Linked DNA regions of Homo sapiens: all the other regions are linked to region 3. Evidence: fine-mapped expression QTL. A gene starts in region 3. Each other region holds a variant in brackets. All regions are shown on one strand. Distances are from middle to middle. Region 1 holds the start of LOC124906020 (a long non-coding RNA gene). Region 2 overlaps GFPT1 (glutamine--fructose-6-phosphate transaminase 1). Region 3 holds the start of GFPT1 (glutamine--fructose-6-phosphate transaminase 1).

Region 1 (8,184 bases), 62 kb before region 3:
TAGGTTCAGAGCGACTCCAGGACTGTCACATGGTTAGATACGATTTATGGACAGAAAAAGGAAAGTAATCTATAGAAAATAAAAGTGAGGTACAGAAACAGCTCAATTGGTGACAGCTGGGGATTTACCTTATTTGACCTGGTTTGAACATTTGACTGCCTGTGGTTGACTGAAGTTTGGCTCCTGTGACTGGCTGAGACTGCTTGTTAGAAGAGTCTGTTAAGAAATCAAGTTGGGTTACAGTTCACTGTGTCTAGAGAAACCTAACTTAAAATATGCAAGGGGGCAGCTTTAGGCCAAACATAACAATTTCCCCCTTTTGAACAACCTCTCAATCTGAGAGATTAACCAAAACTTTAGGCATTGATATCATTCTGTCACCATCATACATGGAGTTATTTGGTCTCAAATTTCACTGAGAAATAATAGAACAGTGGGTTTTGTTTTGTTTTTTTGAGATAGAGTCTCGCTCTGTCACCCAGGCTGGATGGAGTGCAGCGGCGAGATCTCGGCTCATTGCAAGCTCCGCCTCCCGGGTTCACGCCATTCTCCTGCCTCAGCCTCCTGAGTAGCTGGGACTACAGGCGCCCGCCACCACGCCCGGCTAATTTTTTGTATTTTTAGTAGAGACAGGGTTTCACCGTGTTAACCAGGATAGTCTTGATCTCCTGACCTAGTGATCCACCCACCTCAGCCTCCCAAAGTGTTGGGATTACAGGCGTGAGCCACTGTGCCTGGCAGAACAGTGGGTTTTGTAAGGTGGGAACAAAGAAACAGAACAATAGAAAGAAAGCTGATTGGGTAACATCAGGTTACTTTTTTGTAAGAGTTACAGCATAGGAGGACTTCCTTGTCATGCTGGAATCTCCTGTTTTCAGGAGAAAAAAAGAAACAGGTCTGTTTTGAGGTCTATCTGCCTCCTACAAGTTTCAGTTTGATTACATGGCATTTAGCGTGAGTGACTCCATTTTAGTTTGGTCTGGTCTGTTGGGGCCTAGTGCAGGAGCTCAGTCCAAAACAATGACCTCCCATAATTTTATTTAACAAGGCCAAGGCACCTATGGTGTAATGTCTTCCTACTTCGCCTGTCCAGATGCGGGCTGGTGCAACCTGCTTCAGACCCTGACATCCAATCAGTAGTTAACTGTGCTCCACAGGTTCCACTGGGGTACAGCATGCCCCTCTCCTTTCACTGGCTAGAAAGCAGCAGGACCCTGGGCTCAGGGCTCACACAGTCTTAGATGTTTTAATGAAACAACTTCCTTCTTTTCCTTTATTTCAAACACTCTCCCTGAGCCTGAGGCAGAGTTCATGGGGGCTGGTCCAGAAGACAGTCTGAGTATCTGGGCTGCTTGACCTTGGATCAAACATATGAATTGACTCTTTCCTCAAGACAGGAATTCTTCCCCAGGATGAATTCTTTCCCAGAAGCGTTCACCATACCTCAGGTAAATATTTCTTTGTTTCATCTGCCACATCAGTCCAGCAGAAATACTCAAATCCATCTCATTTCTAGGAATAACACAGATTAGTCGGCTGACCTCAGGTGTCACTCCTTGTAGAACATCAGGAACGGGTCTAAAAGTGTTATAGGAGAATAAAGCAACAGCATCGTTGTAACTACCTATGTGACAAGCTCAGTTCAAGGCACTTTGAATGCATTTTCTCTAATCACTCAACCATTTTCAGTAGGTATTGTTCCCTGCATTTTACAGATTAGGAAAGTTAGGCTCATCCATTCAACAAGTTTTTTTTGTTTGTTTTTGTGAGACGGAGTCTTGCTCTGTCGCTCAGGCTGGAGTGCAGTAACACGATCTCTGCTCACTGCAACCTCTGCCTCCCGGGTTCAAGCATTCTCCTGCTTCAGCCTCCTGAGTAGCTGGGACGACAGGTGTGTGCCACCACGCCTGGCTAATTTTTTGTATTTTTAGTAGAGACAGGGTTTCACCATGTTAGCCAGGATGGTCTCGATCTCCTGACCTCGTGATCCACCCTCCTCGGCCTCCCAAAGTGCTGGGATTACAGGTGTAAGCCACCACGCCGGGCCTCAAGAAGTATTTATGGAGCACTTACTGAATGACAGGTGCTGTTCTAGGCATATGAGATACATCAGTTATCAATATAAGCAAATATCTCTACCTTTGTGGGGCATACATTCTAGACAGGGGAAACTGATGGAAAAATAATTAGCATAATAATGAAATAAAATATATTTATTAGAAGATGATTAGTTCTACAGAACTTCAGAGAGGTTTCAATTTAGCAAGTATATCTTGAGTATGTCTTAAATGCCAGGCACTAGGAATAAAATCAAGAAGATAAAGGTGGCATGCCTATATGGTGCTTACAGTCAAGTGATGCCATAGAGTAAGGGGCAGAACTAGTAGTTAATGTCACTGCTGACATCCATGTTGGGAAAGATAACCAGAATGAGTGACTGAGGCAAGTATCTCAGTCAATTGAGGTTTATTAAGCCAGCTTCAGGGAGTGTCAGGGAAAAAAACGTGAGCCACAGATGTATCTGTGGCTGTTTTTCCAAAGAGGTTTTCAGGAGGTTTAGTATGTATACTTTTCCTTAAAGGGGAGGAAGGCACGTAGGAAGATGGGCAGGTAGGTGTAAAGGTGAATGGTTACATTCTTAGGAGACTTTAGTTAGTGCCCAGTAAATCTACATTTTTACATAAGATAAGATGAATGTCTGAAGAAAAAAGGGATTAAAGGAAGAATCAATTATGCAAACATCTTTGGGTAGCTGGAGGAATGACTGATCTCATTTGTCTTTGTTCTACACCTGGGAAGATAAGCTTGTAATCAACATTATCAGTGTGGAATGGAACAGACTTTAGTTTTAGGAGCGAGATACACTGGAAACCTAAAGTTACAACTGGCATGTCCTTGTTTATGGGAGGCTGGCAAAGAATTTACTTATGCATGATCTATGGGGAAGTTATTCGGAGATGCCTGAGGCCTTTTACCTTTCCATGCGGGTCTGGCTAACGCATAATGCTAGTGACAGCTATTCATTTGCAAGAGGGGGTTGCATAACTCAGCCTCTTTGGAATAAGGAGTGGAAGTCCTGAAATTTTTTAAATTTTCTGTCACATGTCCTCGTTCTTCAAAATCTTTCAGAGAAAAAACCCTGTAGAAGACACGAGTTTGTGGTTGTAAGTTTCATCTGATTCCAAGTCGCTAGGAAGCCTCATTCCTAGGGGGTCATGTCCTACGGAGATGGGGGAGAAACTAAAGAAGCAATGCCAAATAACAGCAACAAAGGGAAAGTAATCCTGGAACCTGATTCAGGCTACGTAATTGTCTCCTCAATTAAGGCAATTCTTTGGGCAATCATCTCCCTAACTCTTTTAGTTGTACATTGACACATTATAATGTCTGAAGCAGTCTATAGACTAGTTTTTCTAGAGTCTCTGAAGCATCTTCAGATTGCAGTGGCAATCTGACGGATTTTCCTGGATTGTGACTTGAATCAGGTGTTTAAGTGAACCCTTTGCATAGTTCATATTCAATAGGCACAAAGATTGTTTATATATAAATTGCTGTTATTTCTCCCAAAGTTTAAGTTCTCTGGCTTCTGCTTGTAGAGCTTTAAGAAAAGCATAGTTTTAATTTCTCATGATTCATCAGAGGCATGTGAACCAGAGCAACTCCATCGTGAGTAGGGGCTGGGTAAAATAAGGCTGAGACCTACTGGGCTGCATTCCCAGGCATTCTAAGTCACAGGATGAGATAGGATCTCAGCACAAGATACAGGTCATAAAGACCTTGCTGATAAAACAACTTGCAGTAAAGAAGCCGGCCAAAACCCACCAAAACCGAGATGGCGACAAGAGAGACCTCTGGTCATCCTCTCTGCTACACTTCCGCCAGCACCATGACAGTTTACAAATACCATGGCAATGTCAGGAAGTTACCCTATATAGTCTAAAAAGGAGAGGCATGAAGAATCCACCCCTTGTTTAGCATATCATCAATAAATAACTATAAAATTGACAACCAGCAGCCCTTGGGGCTGCTCTGTCTATGAAGTAGCCATTCTTTTATTCCTCTACTTCTTTTTTTTATTTTATTATATTATTATTATCATACTTTAAGTTTTAGGGTACATGTGCACAACGTGCAGGTTTGTTACATATGTATACATGTGCCATGTTGGTGTGCTGCACCCATTAACCCGTCATTTAGCATTAGGTATATTGCCTAATGCTATCCCTCCCCCCTTATTCCTCTACTTTCTTAATAAACTTGCTTCACTTTACGGACTCACCCTGGATTCTTTCGTACGCAAGATCCAAGAACTCTGTCTTAGGGTCTGGATCGGGACCCCTTTCCAGTAACAATTCCAAATCAAGAAAATGGAAGAAAAAGTTGAAAATGTTAGTTTGGAGACTTGCAGCCAGGAAATAAGTCTGAATCCAGTCCAAATTATAGGCAAATAATAAAAACTCAAAAACAATGAATAAGGCTAGAATCTAATAACAGGTGTCAGGCCTCGGAGCCCAAGCTAAGCCATCATATCCCCTATGACCTGCATGTATACATCCAGATGGCCTGAAGTAACTGAAGAATCACAAAAGAAGTGAAAATGGCCTGTTCCTGCCTTAACTGATGACATTACCTTGTGAAATTCCTTCTCCTGGCTCATCCTGGCTCAAAAGCTTTCCCACTGAGCACCTTGTGTCCCCCACCCCTGCCAGCCAGAGAACAACCCCCTTTGACTGTAATTTTCCTTTACCTTCCCAAATCCTATAAAATGGTCCCACCCCATCTCCCTTTGCTGACTCTCTTTTCAGACTCAGCCCGCCTGCACCCAGGTGAAATAAACAGCCTTGTTGCTCACACAAAACCCGTTTGGTGGTCTCTTCACACGGACGCGAATGAAATTTGGTGCTGTGACT[C/T]GGATCGGGGGATCTCCCTTGGGAGATAAATCCCATGTCCTCCTGCTCTTTGCTCTGTGAGAAGGATCCACTTATGACCTCAGGTCCTCAGACCAACCAGCCCACAGAACATCTCACCAATTTTAAATCGGGTAAGCGGCCTCTTTTTACTCTCTTCTCCAACCTCTCTCACTATCCCTCAACCTCTTTCTCCTTCAGTCTTTCCCTTCTCTTAATTTCAGTTCCTTCAATCACACTTTGGTCTCTCCCTTCTCTTAATTTCAGTTCCTCTCCTTTTCTGGTAGAGACAGGAGATGCGTTTTATCCGTGAACCCAAAACTCCGGCGCTGGTCACGGACTCGGGAAGACAGTCTTCCCTTGGTGTTTAATCATGTGGGGTTGCCTGCTTGATTATTCACCCACATTTCAGAGGTGTCTGACCACACAGGGATGCCTGCCTTGGTCCTTCAGCCTTAGCGGCAAGCACTGCTTTTCTGGGGGGCAAGCACCCCCCCACCCCTTCTCTCCATGTCTCTATCCCTTTTCCACTTTCCTGGAGGGCAAGCATCCCCCACCTCTTCTCTCCGTGTCTTTACCCCTTTTCCACTTTTCTGGGGGGCAAGCACCCCCCCACTCCTTCTCTCTCTGTCTCTACCCCTTTTCCACTTTCCTGGGGGGCAAGCACCTCCCACCCCTTTTCTGCTTTCCTAAGGGCAAGCGCCCCCCACCCCTTCTCTCCATGTCCCTATCCTCTCTTTTCTCTGGACTTGCCTCCTTCACTATAGGCAACCTTCCACACTCCATTCCTCCTTCTTCTCCCTTAGCCTGTGTTCTCAAGAACTTCAAACCTCTTCAACTCACACCTGACCTAAAACCTAAATGCCTTATTTTCTTCTGCAACACCGCTTGACCCCAATACAAACTTGACAGTGGTTCCAAATAACCAGAAAACAGCACTTTCGATTTTTCCATCCTACAAGATCTAAATAATTCTTGTCATAAAATGGGCAAACGGTCTGAGGTGCCTGATATCCAGGCATTCTTTTACACATCGGTCCCTCCCTAGTCTCTGTTTCTAATGCAACTCGTCCCAAATCTTGCTTCTTTCCCTCCCGCCTGTCCCCTCAGTCCTAACCCCAAGCGTCAATGAGTCTTTCCAATCTTCCTTTTCTACAGACCCATCTGACCTCTCCCCTCCTCCCCAGGCTGCTCCTCGCCAGGCTGAGCTAGGTCCCAATTCTTCCTCAGCCTCCACTCCCCCACCCTGTAATCCTTTTATCACCTCCTCTCCTCACACCCAGTCCAGCTTACAGTTTTGTTCTGCAACTAGCCCTCCCCAACCTGCCCAGAAATTTCCTCTTAGAAAGGTGGCTGGAGCTAAAGGCATAGTCAAGGTTAATGCTCCTTTCCTTTATCTGACCTTTCCCAAATCGGTTAGTGTTTAGGCTCTTTTTCATCAAATATAAAAACCCAGCCCAGTTCATGGCCTGTTTGGCAGCAACCCTTAGACTCTTTACAGCCCTAGACACTGAAGGGTCAGAAGGCTGTTTCATTCTAAATATGCATTTTATCACCCAGTCAGCTCCTGTCATTAGAAATAAAGCTCCAAGAATTAAATTCCGGCCCTCAAACCCCAAAACAGGACTTAATTAACCTCACCTTCAAGGTGTACAATAATAGAGTAGAGGCAGCCAAGTAGCAATGTATTTCTGAGTTGCAATTCCTTGCCTCCACTGTGAGGGAAACCCCAGCCACATCTCCAGCACACAAAAACTTCAAAACGCCTGAACCGCAGCAGCCACGTGTTCCTCCAGGACCTCCTCCCCCAGGAGCTTGCTACAAGTGCTGGAAATCTGGCCACTGGGCCAAGGAATGCCCACAGCCCGTTATTCCTCCTTAGCCATGTCCCATCTGTGTGGGACCCCACTGAAAATCGGACTCTTCAACTCACCTGGCAGCCACTCCCAGAGCCCCTGGAACTCTGGCCCAAGGCTCTCTGACTCCTTCCCGGATCTTCTTGGCTTAGCGGCTGAAGACTGATGCTGCCCAATCACCTTGGAAGCCCCCTAGACCATCATGGATGCCAAGCTTCGGGTAACTCTCACAGTGGAAGGTAAGCCCGTCCCCTTCTTAATCAACACGGAGGCTACCCACTCCACATTACCTTCTTTTCATGGGCCTATTTCCCTTGCCCCCATAACTGTTGTGGGTATTGATGGCCAGGCTTCTAAACCTCTTAAACTCCCCAACTCTGGTGCCAACTTGGACAACATTCTTTTATGCACTCTTTTTTAGTTATCCCCACCTGCCCAGTTCCCTTATTAGGCTGAGACATTTTAACTAAATTATCTGCTTCCCTGACTATTCCTAGGCTACAGCCACACCTCATTGCTGCCTTTTCCCCCAGTTCAAAGCCTCCTTCGTGTCTTCCTTTCGTATCTCCCCACCTTAACCCACAATTATAGGATACCTCTACTCCCTCCATGGCAACCGATCTCAAGCCCTTACCATCCCATTAAAACCTAATCACCCTTACCCCGCTCAACGCCAATATCCCATCCCATAGCACACTTTAAAAGGATTAAAGCCTGTTATCACTTGCCTGTTACAGCATGGCCTTTTAAAGCCTATAAACTCTCCTTACAATTCCCCCATTTTACCTGTCCAAAAACCGGACAAGCCTTACAGGTTAGTTCAGGATGCACACTTTATCAACCAAATTGTTTTGCCTATCCACCCTGTAGTGCCCAACCCTTACACTCTTTTGTCCTCAATACCTTCCTCCACAACTCTCTATTCTATTCTTGATCTTAAAGATGCTTTTTTCACTATTCCCCTGCACCCCTTGTCCCAGCCTCTCTTTGCTTTTACCTAGACTGATCCTGACACCTATCAGTCTCAGCAGCTTACCTGGGCTGTACTGCCACAAGGCTCCAGGGACAGCCCTCATTACTTCAGCCAAGCTCTTTCTCATGATTTACTTTCTTTCCATCCCTCCGCTGCTCACCTTATTCAATATATTGATGACCTTCTACTTTGTAGCCCCTCCTTTGAATCTTCTCAACAAGACATCCTCCTGCTCTTTCAACATTTATTCTCCAAAGGATATCGGGTATCCTTCTCCAAAGCTCAAATTTCTTCTCCATCCGTTACCTACCTTGGCATAATTCTTCATAAAAACACACATGCTCTCCCTGCTGATCGTGTCTGACTGATCTCTCAAACCCTAACACCTTCTACAAAACCACAATTCCTTTCCTTCCTAGGCATGATTGGATACTTTCACCTTTGGATA
Region 2 (8,184 bases), 62 kb after region 3:
GAGATAGAGAATATATACTGTAAAACCAATGGGAATTTTATTTTCAGCTTTTTAAAATTAAAAGTTCTAAATTCTTCAGATGCAGCTGCAACTAATTGTCCTGCTTTTTTGTGATGTTTCAGGCTTATACCAGCCAGTTTGTATCCCTTGTGATGTTTGCCCTTATGATGTGTGATGATCGGATCTCCATGCAAGAAAGACGCAAAGAGATCATGCTTGGATTGAAACGGCTGCCTGGTACAAAGACACTCATATATTACACTTTTGTTGTCTAAGGGAGTGGGTAATAGGTAAAATTCTCTTATCCTTGAAGCTGTGGCTTGTAGCTATTTAGTCAATAAGATCTTTCTACGTTTGCTCCGATGTATTAAAAAAATACCCATACTGATTGATAGCACAGAGGAATAGAAACACTGGTCTTTTGTTATTTGCTGCCAATATATTGTTATTTTATTTGTTTGGTTTATTGTCCTTTTTTGCTAATATTACTTCTTAGATTTGATTAAGGAAGTACTGAGCATGGATGACGAAATTCAGAAACTAGCAACAGAACTTTATCATCAGAAGTCAGTTCTGATAATGGGACGAGGCTATCATTATGCTACTTGTCTTGAAGGGGCACTGGTAAGTTTTCTCAGTTCTAATTAGTATCAGTCCATTGACCTGCAGACCTGACACATAGTCATACTTTTACATTAAATGAATGAAATAGGTAGAACTTTTGAAAGTGCTTCTGTATTTATGCATTGTGGTTTGTTTACTTTGAGAAAGTGCAACAGAGAACTCTGTTCAGAAGTGAAAATCAAAAAGAGTACATTTTAACATGATAAACTTGGATTTAGCAAGTAACTTGGGTTAATTTGTTCAAATATGAATAAAGATTAAGTTCTCTAGATAAGAAATTTAATTGAGGTCAAGCTGGGCACAGTGGCTCACGTCTATAATCCCAGCACTTTGGGAGGACATGGCAGGTAGATCAAACTTGAAGTCAGAAGTTCGAGACCAGCCTGGCCAACGTGGTGAAACCCCATCTCTACTAATAATACAAAAACATTAGCTGGATGTGGTAATGCATGACTATAATCCCAGCTACTTGGGAGGCTAAGGCGGGAAGATCACTTGAACCTAGGAGGTGGAGGTGGCAGTGAGCCGAGATCACACCACTGTACTCCAGCCTGGGCGATCGAAGAAGACTCTGTCTTAAAAAAAAAAAAAAAAAGGGTTAACCAGAAATATGAATATGTTTGTGATAATCTAAAATCTTTAAAAAGTCCTTGTGGAGCTTTAAAACTTCCAATTACATGTTGATAATATAGAAATAGTGATCTATTAACTTGTTAGATATATTTATAGATCAGTGGTCCTTTAATACTTTTGGATAGATAGACAGTGGCTTGACATATCAGATGCTTTTTATAATATTTACTTAAACATGGATTTTTGAAAAGTGGATTGAAGACAAATCTGGTTCTTTCCTATTAGAAAATCAAAGAAATTACTTATATGCACTCTGAAGGCATCCTTGCTGGTGAATTGAAACATGGCCCTCTGGCTTTGGTGGATAAATTGATGCCTGTGATCATGATCATCATGAGAGATCACACTTATGCCAAGTGTCAGAATGCTCTTCAGCAAGTGGTTGCTCGGCAGGTAAGTCGGGGGACTGTGAGAACACCTTGGGGATCAAAGAGGGGAGTTACGCTAGCTTATTTGAATGACTTACAAAACATGTTTACACGTGTTAACTCATTTACTTTGGAATACAGCCTTTGAGGTTTACATGTGAGGAATCAGATACTTAAGAGTTTTTTTTTTTTTTTTTTTTTGAGATGGAGTCTCTGTCACCCACCCTGGAGTGCAGTGGCACAATCTTGGCTCACTGCAACCTCTGCCTCCTGGGTTCAGGCAATTTTCCTGCCTCAGCCTCCCAAGTAGCTGGGATTACAGGCACACTCCACCACGCCTGGCTAATTTTGTATTTTTGGTAGAGATGGGGTTTCATGTTGGCCAGGCTGGTGTCGAACTCCTGACCTGAAGTGATCCACCTGCCTCAACCCCCCAAAGTTCTGGGATTACAGGCATGAGCCACCCCGCCTGGCCCAGATACTTAGAGCTTTAAGAAGACCAAGGTCATAGATCTCATATTGGGCAGAACCAAGACCAGAACTGAGGTCTTGGTCTCCACATCCTGTCTTCTTTTAGTTAACATATGCTGTTCCTTTTTAATTTAATACTTCTAAAACATTTAAAAATGTATTTTAAAATATTTTTAAATATATATTTCAGCTGGTTGCAGTGGCACATGACTGTAGTCCCAGCTACTCTGGGGACTGAGGCAGGAGGATCACTTGAGTCCAGGAGTTTGAATACAGCCTGGGTAGCATAGTGAGACCCTGTCTCTAAAACAGTAAATAAAATAAATTAAAAAAAATTACACACACGCGATATATTTCAGGGGAAATCTAACATCTAGGTTTTATTTTAATATTATATAATTGAGTTTTCTTCAGATCAGTTGGCTTTATATATAAATTCCAAAAGATATTATTCCCTAAGCACAATGTGGTGGTAATGAACTTGAGCTTTGAAGTTAGGCAAACCTGCAGTCAAGTACTAAGCCTGGTATTTCTTAGTTGCATGAGTTTAAACAAATTACTGGATCCCATAACGCTTCTGTTTCCTCGACTATAAGTAATAACAATCAGATTTACTACACAGGAATTTAAAGAAGTCTGTCCGTGAGGCTTCATATGGATTATGCAGTGCAATTTTTGCACATTCGTAAGCTATAGCCCTGCCTTTGCCCACCAGTGATGTTGTGTATGTGTGTGATTTTCTTTCCTAGGGGCGGCCTGTGGTAATTTGTGATAAGGAGGATACTGAGACCATTAAGAACACAAAAAGAACGATCAAGGTGCCCCACTCAGTGGACTGCTTGCAGGGCATTCTCAGCGTGATCCCTTTACAGTTGCTGGCTTTCCACCTTGCTGTGCTGAGAGGCTATGATGTAAGTCATCTACCACTGCAGAAATCTTGGGATGGTTTTTTACCTGGATACATTCTGATTTTTTTCTCCTAAATTTTTAACAATAGTGTTTGAGAAATCTATCAAATATATATCTGTCACCTGTTATATTTTCATGGCCCAATTTGTAGGTTACATCACAACATCTTCTTACCCATAGAACTTGAAGGAACCTTGGGGTTCACCTCCAAGATTGTGACTCACCTTGGGTAGTCTCCACCTGTTTTCTTAATATAACCTCTATCTCTTAACAGGGCAGCTATTGGCATTTGGCAGGACAATTCTTTTTTGTTTGGAACTGTCCCACACATTGAAGACTTTGTAGCATTCCTGGTTTCTCAGCCATTGTGGCAACCAAAACATAGTGCTTTTGTTTTTAGTGTCCCCTATGAGGGCTACTACTTCTGTAGAGGACCACAGTAGCTCTTTCTGTGTGAACTGGCACCTTTAGAATGCTTTTTCCTAACCAATTTCAGTTTTTTTCAGGACACATTATGTGATTATATTTTCTAATCTAATTCTTTGTAGTCTGTAATAAAGATGGTTAATGAATGTATTGTTTTCTGTTTTTATAAACAAAAATAATTTGCTTATAGTAACCACCCCCTTCCCCAGTCTATATAATCTCTCAAATCTTGCTTTTTTTTTTTTTCTTTTTGCAGGTTGATTTCCCACGGAATCTTGCCAAATCTGTGACTGTAGAGTGAGGAATATCTATACAAAATGTACGAAACTGTATGATTAAGCAACACAAGACACCTTTTGTATTTAAAACCTTGATTTAAAATATCACCCCTTGAAGCCTTTTTTTAGTAAATCCTTATTTATATATCAGTTATAATTATTCCACTCAATATGTGATTTTTGTGAAGTTACCTCTTACATTTTCCCAGTAATTTGTGGAGGACTTTGAATAATGGAATCTATATTGGAATCTGTATCAGAAAGATTCTAGCTATTATTTTCTTTAAAGAATGCTGGGTGTTGCATTTCTGGACCCTCCACTTCAATCTGAGAAGACAATATGTTTCTAAAAATTGGTACTTGTTTCACCATACTTCATTCAGACCAGTGAAAGAGTAGTGCATTTAATTGGAGTATCTAAAGCCAGTGGCAGTGTATGCTCATACTTGGACAGTTAGGGAAGGGTTTGCCAAGTTTTAAGAGAAGATGTGATTTATTTTGAAATTTGTTTCTGTTTTGTTTTTAAATCAAACTGTAAAACTTAAAACTGAAAAATTTTATTGGTAGGATTTATATCTAAGTTTGGTTAGCCTTAGTTTCTCAGACTTGTTGTCTATTATCTGTAGGTGGAAGAAATTTAGGAAGCGAAATATTACAGTAGTGCATTGGTGGGTCTCAATCCTTAACATATTTGCACAATTTTATAGCACAAACTTTAAATTCAAGCTGCTTTGGACAACTGACAATATGATTTTAAATTTGAAGATGGGATGTGTACATGTTGGGTATCCTACTACTTTGTGTTTTCATCTCCTAAAAGTGGTTTTTATTTCCTTGTATCTGTAGTCTTTTATTTTTTAAATGACTGCTGAATGACATATTTTATCTTGTT[C/A]TTTAAAATCACAACACAGAGCTGCTATTAAATTAATATTGATATATTCAGTATTCTCTTCAACTTTGTCACGAGGAAGAATTTCCTGTAGTTAATTTTAACTTTCCTTCATTACATTGTTGCATAAAACTAGTCCCTTAGTGCCAGTTTGGAAGTTACTTGCAATTGTTTGGAAGATTTGCAGGTCGCTGACCTCATCATTTCACTCTAAGTATATGTGGTAGGCTAAGCTCAGAAAAAGGTATGTATGCTTTACACTGATAGGCACCAAATTTAGTATTGTATCCTAAGTATTTTTCCTCTTCTGTATTTTCTGTGCTCTACCCCTGAAATATATTTAGGAATAAAGAAGATATAAATAAAGTGATATTGGGGTATGTTCAGCTTGTAAGTGTCAGAAATGGAAGTTGACAATTTGGATTAAAATATTTAAAGTAGAATGTTATTATTTGATACCCCCAAAATTGTGAGTAATAATTTCTTAATGGAGCTTTTCTGGCCAGATCTTCAGGGCTATAGGAGAGTGTGTTTGTTTTTGGTGAAGTCCTTCTTTTTCAAAGGTTTTTACTTTTAAATTGTGAAGATAAGCTATTTAGCACAATTATTTAAGTAAGCTGTTTTTTCCTTTCTTTTCTTTCTTTTCTTGTTTTAACTTCTGGGTGAGGTTAAGATTTTCTAATAGTTATTGTTGTTGCCAGAGAAGCATAGAATTCTGCTTGTGTCTTAGGGTTAGAGAAAGATTTGTTATATTTTGAGGTAATTTGGAAGGACTTTCATACATGGTGACTAGAAACCTGATCTTTTTAAGAATAAAATAGGGTCACTATTTACATTATATATAATATATGGCTATTATAGCTATATTAATCTACTTTAATTGTTTCTAAGATTATTTTGTGTAAGTCAGCTAGCGTGTGTATAGTGTCATTTCTTATGTTTTGTATATTAACGTTTTACAAACACAATTTGTGTGGGTTTGTAGCATTTCTTATAGTTTAAAGTATGATTCAGCATTCTAAGTTAAAACTAATATGTGAAGTCAGTCATTAGTCTGCATAATCTCTGTCTCCCTCTGTGTGTGTCTTTCTATAAAGCACATGTGTACACACACACACACAAATATACTGAAAGCTAGGGTAAGTTCTAAACTGAATATCAAAAACCAAAATCAAGAACAAAGAAGTGATATTTTCCAAACAAACATGGATTCTCTGCCGGGTGCAGTGGCTCAGCCTGTAATACCAGCCTCCACTTTGGGAGTCTGAGGTGGGAGTATTGCTTGAGCTCAAGAGTTGGAGAACAGCCTGGGCAACATGGTGAGACCTGGTCTTTACAAAAATTTTTTTGGCCGGACGCAGTGGCTCACACCTGTAATCCCAGCACTTTGGGAGGCCGAGGCAGGTTGATCATGAGGTCAAGAGATCGAGACCATCCTGGCCAACATGGTGAAACCCCGTCTTTACTAAAAATACAAAAATTAGCTGGGAGTGGTGGCGTGCGCCTGTAGTCCCAACTACTTGGGAGGCTGAGGCAGGAGAATCGCTTGAACCCAGGAGGCGGAGGTTGCAGTGAGGCGAGATCACGCCACTACACTCCAGCCTGGCGACAGAGCAAGACTCTCTCAAAAAAAAAAAAAAAAAATTTTTTTTTTAAATGGGCTGGGCATGGTGGCTTGTGCCTGTAGTCTCAGCAACTTGGGAGGCTTAAGTAGTAGGATCGCTTGAGCCTGGGAGGTTGAGGCTGCAGTGAGCTGTGATTGTGCCACTGTGCTTCAGCTTGAGTGACAGAGTGAGACCCTCCTGACTCAAAACAAAAAACATGGTTTCTCCTCTCTCTCCTGTCTTCTTACTCTCTATCCCATTTGATGTAGTGATTTTTAAATGCTTTTGTAAGTTAATTCTTAACACAAAAGAGACATTGTAATGAGGCACACCACTAAAGTGAGCATGCCCAATTAAAACCAGTGTAATATAGGATAAGAAAATCTGATTTTTCAAAAAAGATACTCTACATAAAGAATCCTTCATATAAAAAGTTCTTTCTTGTAGTACATTTAAAGTTTTAATTCACTCATGTATAACTGAGAGTTCCTTTGAGCCCTTTTTAGGCAGGGAGGCATGTCTGTCATCTAGCGTGTGGCCCAGTAAGTGATTATTACATTGGAATCAGTTTTTCAGTCTTTTAAAATAAATTCTGTGCCATAAGAATAAAAGATAAAGAGAAAAATTAATGTTAACTATTTTTAGCTTATTATAACTATGTCAACAAGTGTTTATTAATACCTATTATGGGAAAGTCACTGTGGTTGGCATTGAAAATTACATCATCTTTAAAGCAGTATTTGTCCCCAGATGGACTCATCACTAGCAAAGACTAGGTTCATTGGAAGGCATAGGGTGAGAGAATGGGAAGATGAAGTGGAGGCGGGTTGTTAAAGTGCTGTCAGTGAGTGATTTTGTCTACTTGAATAATGGTCCATGTTTGGGGGCATATTGTGTTTCATAAGAAGTGAAAGGTATTTGCAAAGTAAGCTACAAATGACCCATAAATCTGTTAACAACAGTCCTTAATATGCAAAGATGAAAAACAAGCATTACTGCTACCCAAAGGGAACTGGTGCTTGGTGATGTGCAGATGGGGCTGTTGGTTAAGAGAGCTATTACAGGTTTTCTCTCTTAGGTTTCATAGGAGGTAGTTACTGAGATGAGATTGTTTTATCTTTTTGAATACAGATCTCTTGTCTTGAGTTAGTTCTGAGGATGGGAGTAATAAAGGAGTTTTTTGTTTTTTTGTTTGTTTGTTTGTTTTGGCTCCTTAGTAATACTCCTCTGACATTTATTTCTATTATTCTTCAAAGAAAGGAAACCAACTGAAATGTTTGCTTTAACAAACATTTTAATAAGTTCTCTGGGTTTTTTTTTCCCCTTTTAAAAAAATTAGCATATACCATAGCAATAAAAGAACTAATGTTAACTATTGTATGCTACAACTTAAGTGATTTTTCTAAAGAAGCACAATGTCATTGAAAGTATTATTGAAAAGGATCATAGTCACATTGAATTTGTGAAGGCCAAAGAAATTGAAGGGAGTGATATTTTCATTTTATGATATTCACATATTTAGTAAATTTTGTGTACAAGAATACCAGGCAGAGTGTTTTACCCATGGAAACAGGTTTCAGATTACTTTATTTTTACTGTTAGAGTCTCAAGTTTAGAAATGCTAACACTTAAATCAGTTTTTTTCTCACTATACTTGAAGATTGTTAATATTTTGATATCTTCCTAGCTTGATGAATTTAAACATATCTTCAGATCTGTGACAGTGACAGCCAATAGGACTGATAATATTAGCTTCAAACCAATAATATCCAGGGTTAAAATAAAAATCATAGTGAAAGTACGATTGTAAAATTATGCTATATTAACTTTTAAGTCTGTAATAACTTGACATCAAAATGTTATGTAATTACCATAAATAATGGCTAGCGAGAACATCTTTGGAAATTCTCAAATTACCTTTCTTACTACACTGTTTGCAGAATGAATGTAGAAATGATCCTGTTAGCTTTCTGAATGTTCTG
Region 3 (8,184 bases):
AGGATGAAGCCCTATGCAGGATGACATACAGTCACATGAGAGCAACATATATAAAAATAGCAAACGTTCATTGAACATTCAGTGTTCATTTATTCATTGAACATCCTTCATCCTCAAGCCTGAGGTTTTCACAAAGACTGTTCTAAGCACCTTATATTTATGAAGTCATTTAATCCTACGTGATAGTTAACTATTGTCCCTCCTCCGCCCCCCCCACCGCCCCTGCCTTTTTATTTTGAGACGAAGTCTTGCTCTGTCGTCCAGGCTGGAGTGCAGTGGCACCATCTCAGCTCACTGCAACCTCCTCCTCCCAAGTTCAAGCAATTCTTCTGGAATTACAGGCATGCGCCACCACACCTGACTATTTTTGTATTTTTGGTAGAGACAGGGTTTCACCATATTGGCCAGGCTGGTCCCTGACCTCAAGTGATCCACCCGCCTTGGCCTCCCAAAGTGCTGGGATTACAGGCTTGAGCCACTGTGCCCGGCCTATTGTCCCCATTTTTATAAACTGGAAGATGGAGGCACAAGGAAAAGTACATTGTCCATTGCCATGCAACTTGAGTGGAAAAGCTAGGAACATGAACTCTGGCATTCTGGCTGCAGGGCCTATGCACATTATAGCTATACTATTCTGCCTTAAGGAAGTTGGGCTCATACCCCTCTTGAGTATTCCTACTTGAGGGAGGAGAGAAGCTTTCCTTGCTTTCATAGCTACTTACGAGTGGGCAAGAGTCTAGAACCACAGTAGACAAAAGCAGTGGTATGTACATGTGTGTCCATTTTTTTATGCAGGAATATGAAACTAGTTGCTTTCCAGTCCAGAGGGAATCTACACCCCTCTTGGGAAATCCCAGCCATATACTCCATTTTGCCATATCAGTGTTATCTGTGATTATTCCCTAGGAGCTTACAAGATACACAGAAGCAACTTTTCAAGTATCCCTTGAAAGAAACCCTAGAAAAATAGTACTTTTTCTGTGTCCTTACGTTTCAAGTGATCTTTCAGTTCTAGGCAGCTCCCTGAATGGTCCACCCCTTATTGTGGCTCTGTTCACATCCAACAGGACAGAAATAGTAGGTTAAAGGTAGGACCAGTTTATCTCATGGTTTTCAATTTGTTGACTTTCTTGGCAGTAGAAAGAGTTTCTTTCTCGCAGAGCTAGAAAACTCTGCCCCAGCTTCTGCCTACTGGAAAAATTTGGAGCCACGTTGGAGAGGAGTATTGGGGAGGGCATAGCTTCTAGTTGGAGTTAGCATCCTTTGTCCTCAAGCCTCAGGTTTTCTGGGGGGCAATCAGGTCATATTTGCTTGATGCGGTGGACATATTTTTTTGTGTGCCTTCTTGGTGTTCTTCTTTTAGCAACACCTTCCCCTTTCCTTTGAAGAACTGCTTCCTCTTGCCGTATGTGGCTATATGACTCTATAGGGCTTTGGTGGAGCTGTCCTATCACAATGTCTTGCCTTCTTTGCCACAGGAGTGGGGCATGTGACTCACGCTGGACTGGCCAGAATCCTTGTCTAGAATATAAAAAGTAAGGATGGAGGAATAGCCTCTCTCATTTTGGGCTGCAAGCTATAAAGTTGTGATTACAGAGCTATTTGAGGATTATTTCCCTGTCCATGAGGTCAGAGAGGTAGTTCAAGAGTTCTGACAACATTCTGTCCCTGGGTATAAATGTGCTGAAAGCTGTTTGTATTCCTGTTCTTTCCAATTACGTGAGCTAGTAAATCCCCTTCTTTAGTTTGAGTGGTCTTCTATTTATTATTTGTCAGTGAAAGCTCTGCCCTCTAGGCACATCTTTCACCATGACTGTGAGAAATAAATTTGTGAGAGCTGCATCCTTGAAGAGCTCTGTGAAAGCTCTTTCTGTGGGAGTGCTGCCACTGAATTGGGAAATCTAGTACTCATCCTGTGGGTGAAGAGTAACCACGATATTGGAAGCAAGGAAAAACTGGATCACATTTGTATTTTTGACAGGTCCCTCTGGAGCCAAAGTGTGTGGGATGAACTGCGGGAGGCTAAAGGGGTTCACTCAAAGGGTCTTTCTGAGGCCTTGATTGGTGCCTTTTGTTCTTGTCCTCATTTCTTTTCACAGGCCTCAGGGGCTCAACCTATTTCTTTTTCCTTTGATACTTGCTACCATCTTCTCTGTCCACTGGGGTACATTTCTCCACAAAGCTCCCTAAAAAGTAGGACATATGTACCCCAGCTCCCCATATTCTTATGCAAAGGAATTTTTATTTTAATAATTTTATTGCTATTACTGGAATTCACATAAGGGTTAATAAAAATGACTACAGCTATTTCAATTAAGGTTCTTCGTTGCGTTAGTAATGGCAACTGGAAGCTCTGATGGCCTTCAGCCATCAGATCCAATGGGACTGAATCTACGAACAGGGAAATGGACTTACATAAAGAGATGGTGAATGACACCCCCTTGCCATCATTACTTTTTTTGTTGTCGTTCAGAATGTTTTGATCAGGAGAGAAAATCCATTCCCTCATTTGTTTGAATTAGACCCAGATGTCCCCTTCCCTTCATAGATCATTTATTTTCTTCTCCTTCAGGCCTTATTCCCAAAGGTCCAGTTAAGGCGGAGCTCTGTATAAAGGGAGGTCAGGCACCCAAAGTGTGTATCTTAACTGGCGCATGGTTACAAAGAGTTCTTTGTTGTGTTGGGTTAGTGAGGTTCTTCAAGGCTGATTTGGGAAAATACTGTCCTTCAAAGTTTCTTCTCTTTTTTGTCAAATTATTTTTTTATTTACTTTTTTTTTAACTTTTTTTTTTTTTTCTGAGTTGGGGACTTTCCAGTCTTTACTGAAAACTTTTAAAAATTTGTATTTAGACAAATTCTAAAAGACCTGTAACACTAGTTTCTTCTTCTCAACTGATTCATAAATATCTTCCAAAATAGTTTGTTGAGTGGAGATGGATAAGACAAATTGATAGTCATTGTGGTGGAGTAGCAGGCAGAAGAAGAAAGCAAAGGGTTAAATAGATTACTATAGTTGGAGCATGAGAACTCTGGTAGTACTGCTGACATTTTCTTTGTGGCATTGACAGGTTTGCTGCCAGTGCACAAAGATGTTGCTTAAGCATTGGAACCATACCTTGGCTTTTAGGTAATACAACGGAGTTCTAACCAGAGCCTTAGATGAGGGTTCTGAGGCTAGATGTATATCCACAGTCTTTTGTTTCTTGAATTAAGAAATGTATTATTACCAAAAAGCTCACTGTTTTTTTTTTTTTTAAACTTTGCTCTGGGTGATCCAGGGACCTGTTTAAGGGATTGAAATATCAAAAGGGCTTTTAGGTGAGAAATACTCTGCTTAGTTAAATGTGACATTTTTCAGCTTCTCTGAGGCAAGTGAAAAAAGGCACTTTTCCCCGTAAGAAGAACTGAAAGCCTTATGCTCACTTAATCATATAACCAGCCATAGAAGGTTAATTCCGCTAAGAAAATAGGACTTTTTTTCACTCATTCCAAAATAAATTTGATCTTTTACTTTGTGCTGTGGTCTAAAAGTGTTGGGTATGTAAAATCTAGTTCTAGCTTCAAGAAACTTACAGCCCAGTGGGAAAATACAGAAAATCATAAAATATCAAAGAATATTTCTTTACAGTGAGTAGCTCAAAGAGTAAGAGGTTAATGCATGTCTCCAAGTCTGTCTAGGGGGGATAAAAAAGGCTTTCCTGAAGAGGTAGCATCTAAACAGAGACGTGGTGGGGATTCTATGCAGAGTAACCAAAGTGTGCAAAAGATTTGAGAATCTTGGCCCAGTTGAGGAACTACCTGTTGAGCCTGTTGGGAGTGTATAGGGCTGGAAGGACGGCTAAGACCAGACACATGAACAGCAGTCAGCAGGCTAAGACCAGACACATGAACAGCAGTCAGCACTCCAGGAATTCTGTGTGCCATGTACGTTTTTGATACTACTCTACTCTAGAGCCATTATAGAGTTCTGATTACTCCACATTTGACTAAAGATACCATTTAAGGCTGTTTAAAGCAAATGCCCAGGTAATAAATTCTCAGAAACATCATCCCTCTCTAATCAAGTCTCTCTTGTCAGACATGGCGCATTAATTCATAGAATGAATCGTTCGTAAGTCAAACGCGCGGCTGTTAAAGCTAGGGAATTCCTAGCCGTCTCAGGTGGGTCATGGGAGGAGGTGGGCCAGCAGTTTCTTACGTCCAGGCTCATAGTCGGATAGTTGAGCCTTACATTCCTCCTCTACCCCTCCACAATAAACTGAGGGTTATGGAGGCAACGGATGCGGAGGGCTTTTAGGGGCCAAGCATATTACACAAGGAATTGAATTGCTTATTACCAGAGAGGCTGACCTTTGGGGCTTTACAGTCAAGAATTTTGTTATCTCTCTCCTCCCACCTCAACCTAATTCTTTGCAATTTTTTTCAGCCTTATGTTCCCCAGGATTCCCTTTTCATACTTCCTGCTTTTTTCCTCCTCTTTCCTCGCTTCGTGCAGTGCTGGCGCCTGGGGCCTGGGGCTGCACGGGGCACGCACCCGGGCTATTGCTTTGCTAACAATTCCATCCTTCTCTTTCCGTCATTCCCTGCCAGGTGCTGAGTTTCTCCCTCCCTCTCGGCTCGGTCCCTCCCGCGGCTCGCCCCGGGGCGGGCGTCTCCAGGAACTCCAGGCGGACGCGGCCACGAGCCACTGCCACGTCGCCGCCGCCAGCAGTCCAGCGCCTGCGTGGGCTCGGGGGGCGGGGCAGCGCTGGGAGGCGGGACTTGCGCGTGAGCGGCGCGTGAGCGGTTCAATGGAGCCTACGGGCGGCGGCGCGCTGCGCGCCGAGGGGCGGGGCCCGGCGGCGGTTGCTGGCGGAGCCCGGGAGGCGGAGAAGGCTGTCGTTGCCTTGGCCGTCGCATCCCCGAGGGAGTCGTGTCGGCGCCACCCCGGCCCCCGAGCCCGCAGATTGCCCACCGAAGCTCGTGTGTGCACCCCCGATCCCGCCAGCCACTCGCCCCTGGCCTCGCGGGCCGTGTCTCCGGCATCATGTGTGGTAAGGGGGCCGGGAGCGGGGGGCGTGTTGCCGGGTGGCGCTGGGGTGCGGTGCGGGTGCCGCTAAGGCCCAAGGCGACGGGCGGAAGCGGGAGTGTGGAGGGTGCGAAGTCTGGGTGATGGGCAAGGGGCGCCCAGTGGTGGCTGCGGGGGCGGGGGCCGGCATCCACGGGCGGGAGAGGGGGTGGCGGCCGGGAGAAAGGCACCTGAGAGGAAGGCGGGCCCCCTTTGCCGGGGGCTAGCGGGCGCCTTGGCGCGGAGAAGGAACCGAAAGGGGAGAGAAACGCCTTTATTGAAAAAGGAGGAGAGAGCTGAGGGAATTGAGGTGTGGAGGGGGTTGCCTTCAAAAGGGCCCACCAGGTGAGTGAGGAAACCTGTGGAACCTCGGGCGAGGTCTCTTGAACTTACCTTGCATTTTTCTAAAAATCTTTAAAAAAATATTTTACTTGTTTCTGGGGAGGCCCAATAGAAAACAGACCCTAGCTAGAGCCACGGTAGTGCCATTAAACGTGATACTTCCTGCCATCCCTTGTCTCAACAGAAACCATTGCTAATCAATAACTTGGTTCATGGGCTTAGACCTGATCCTCTGGTGGAAGAGGCCTTCAAATGTCTGTGGCGATAGGTTATACATAATTTATCATTTGCGTGTGCACCCATTAAAAATGCCAGCTCTGAAAAATATCAGTTATACCTTGGATGTATACCCCTTTAGAATACCAACTATGAAAAATATCATTTATCCCTTGCATGTGCATCCATTAAAAATACTAGCTATGGAAAGTTGAGCAAATATCTTTCCTAGAGCCTTAAAAAATTAAGGTTAGGCCCTTTTATTCCATGTTTTGAGAGTCGTTTATTATGACCTAAGTGTTAGTGAAAGAGACTTTGAGAATCGTGTCTGACATGACTGATATCTTCTAAAATTGGTGTTAATTTGGCTATTGCCAGTAAAAATAATTGTATTCTTACCTTTCTTATTGAAATTTACAACCGACTTTATCCCTGGAAGAAAGTACACTTTTTTTTTTTTTTTTTAAAGGGAAGTACCATTGTAAGAGAATTGAAAACTCTCTGGGAGACTTCTTATTTGCAGCCTTTTACACGAAGGAACTGAACAGGAGGTGGATTGTACTCGTTAGTGTATATATTTCCTGTATTTAACTTTATGCTCATTTCAGCTTCTGAAAATGAGGAGCAGGTTTAAATTTAGAGTAGATTAAAAAAAAACCCACATAAAAACAGAAACACCTATAAATAGCTTACTGAAATTATTAGAGTAGAGCTGACTTCAGAATCAGACTTTTGCAGTGTCTACTTAGTAGAATGGTTTTGCATTTAGTTTGGAGCTGTGAAGTAGTGAATTTGCAAACTGGTCAATCTCCAGTGTGCTTCATTTGGTAGTTAACTGTTCCTGAATGATGAGGGGTGTGCCTCATCAAGTACTCAACATTCTGGTTGCAGGTCATTTCATCATGTTCCAAGAAAAAAACGTAGTCAAAGTACTTACTGAAAAAAAAATAAATAAATAAATAAATCAGCGCTGGGCGTGGTGGCTCCCGCCTATAATCTCAGCACTTTGGGAGGCCGAGGCAGGTGGATCACCTGAGCTCAGGAGTTCAAGACTAGCCTGGCCAACGTGGTGAAACTCCATGTCTACTAAAAATACAAAATTAGCTGGGCGTGGTGGTACGCGCCTGTAATCCCAGCTACTCGGGAGGCTGAGGCAGGAGAATTGCTTGAACCCAGGAGGTGGAGGTTGCAGTGAGCCGGGATCGCGCCATTGTAATCCAGCCTGGGTAAAAAAGAGCAAAACTCCATCTCAAAAATGATAAATAAATATAAATAAATAAATCAGATATGGAAATCAGGTTCAGATAAGGGAGATACCTTTAGGGTGGAGACTAAATGTTGGGAGTTTTCACATAGTTTGTGTCTCCATTCCATAGAGTTTTACGGCTGAGGAAACAGGTATTGAAGAAATAAAAAGTGAATATTTGAGGCATTTCTGAGGTCCTGCTTTTAAGTCATACCACGGTTTTGCCTGATTCTAGGGATAGGGTTCAGAATTTATTTTCTCTCTAATGTAAATTCTGAAAGATAAGAAGATGAGTGTCATTATTTTCCTCCCACATCTTAGTCATTGAACTAAAATTCCTGAGCAGAGAAATGGAGTGAAAATTAGACTAGATGGGAAAATCTGGAAGCTTACTTTCTGATTACTTGCTATCTAGTTAAGTTTTTCTCTTTCTTTCCTTCTTTCTTTTCTTTTCTTTCTTTCTTTCTTTTTCTTTCTTTCTTCTTTCTCTCTCTTTCTTTCTTTCTCTTCTTTCTTTTCTTTCTTTCTTTTTTCTTTTTTTTTTTTTTTTTTTGTGACGGGGCCTCTCTCTGTCGCCCAGGCTGGAGTGCAGCGGCATGATCTTGGCTCACTGCAGCCTCTGTCTCCGGGGTTCAACCTCCCGAGTAGCTGGGATTACAGGGGTGTACCACCACACCTGGCTAATTTTTGCATTTTTGGTAGAGGTGGGGTTTCACCATGTTGACCAGACTGGTCTGCTGACCTCAGGTAATCCACCTACCACAGCCTCCCAAAGTGCTGGGATTACAGGAGTGAGCCACCTTACCCGGCCCTAGTTAAATTTGCCTAAAAGATTATTTTATTTCAACGTTGTGCATTGTTGAAGCAGAAGAATGAGGATTGAAGATTCTGATGTGCTTTTTTTCAATCAGATATACTGATAAAATTGATATGTTTACCAGCTTGTATTGGGATGTTAATAAGTGTTAGGAAAAAAGATCCTCTGGTCCAGTAAATTTGGGAAGCAACATATTAAATCGCGTGGTAATGTTTTGTTTTGTTTTTTGATTGGAGGATTTCTTGGAATCTTTAATGTATTAATAATAAGCATTGAGAATCTCCCAGAGAAGAATAGTGTGTCTATTTTCCAAATTTATTTTATCTTCCTTTTTCTTGGTAGTTTGGAATATACTTTGTCCTTTTTATTTGCATTATTTTTGGTTTTGCTGAGTGTCAAGTCACTTAAGCTATCCCTAGCTTTTAACAGATTTTGCTATTGTTTTTATAAATGTGAAGTTATACCCTTCTGATTCGACGGTGTATATAAAATGGAATTTTGGGGATGGGCGCGGTG

The links. PIP is the estimated chance that this variant, and not a neighbour inherited with it, causes the effect.
Region 1: its variant is fine-mapped to the expression of GFPT1 in monocytes after interferon gamma (Fairfax 2014, PIP 0.95).
Region 2: its variant is fine-mapped to the expression of GFPT1 in whole blood (TOPMed, PIP above 0.99). The same link has a PIP of 0.9 or more in blood mononuclear cells, fibroblasts, lung, nasal epithelium, sun-exposed skin and thyroid.

The regions. Positions count from the first base shown.
Region 1 is chr2:69,445,653-69,453,836 of GRCh38, reverse strand. It overlaps LOC124906020 (a long non-coding RNA gene), which reads right to left and starts at 4,338. Exons shown (of 3, transcript XR_007086829.1): 1 at 4,280-4,338; 2 at 129-216. The variant C/T (reference allele first, on the strand shown) is at 4,911.
Region 2 is chr2:69,321,737-69,329,920 of GRCh38, reverse strand. GFPT1 (glutamine--fructose-6-phosphate transaminase 1) reads left to right here. Exons shown (of 20, transcript NM_001244710.2): 16 at 123-237; 17 at 497-624; 18 at 1,483-1,650; 19 at 2,846-3,007; 20 at 3,688-8,184. The coding sequence ends at 3,732. Among named protein-coding and RNA genes, the nearest start is that of GFPT1, 61 kb to the left of the region's middle. The variant C/A (reference allele first, on the strand shown) is at 4,602.
Region 3 is chr2:69,383,914-69,392,097 of GRCh38, reverse strand. GFPT1 (glutamine--fructose-6-phosphate transaminase 1) reads left to right here and starts at 4,871. Exons shown (of 20, transcript NM_001244710.2): 1 at 4,871-5,033. The coding sequence starts at 5,027. RefSeq lists enhancers at 1-272, 4,520-5,079 and silencers at 4,452-4,561, 4,622-5,291.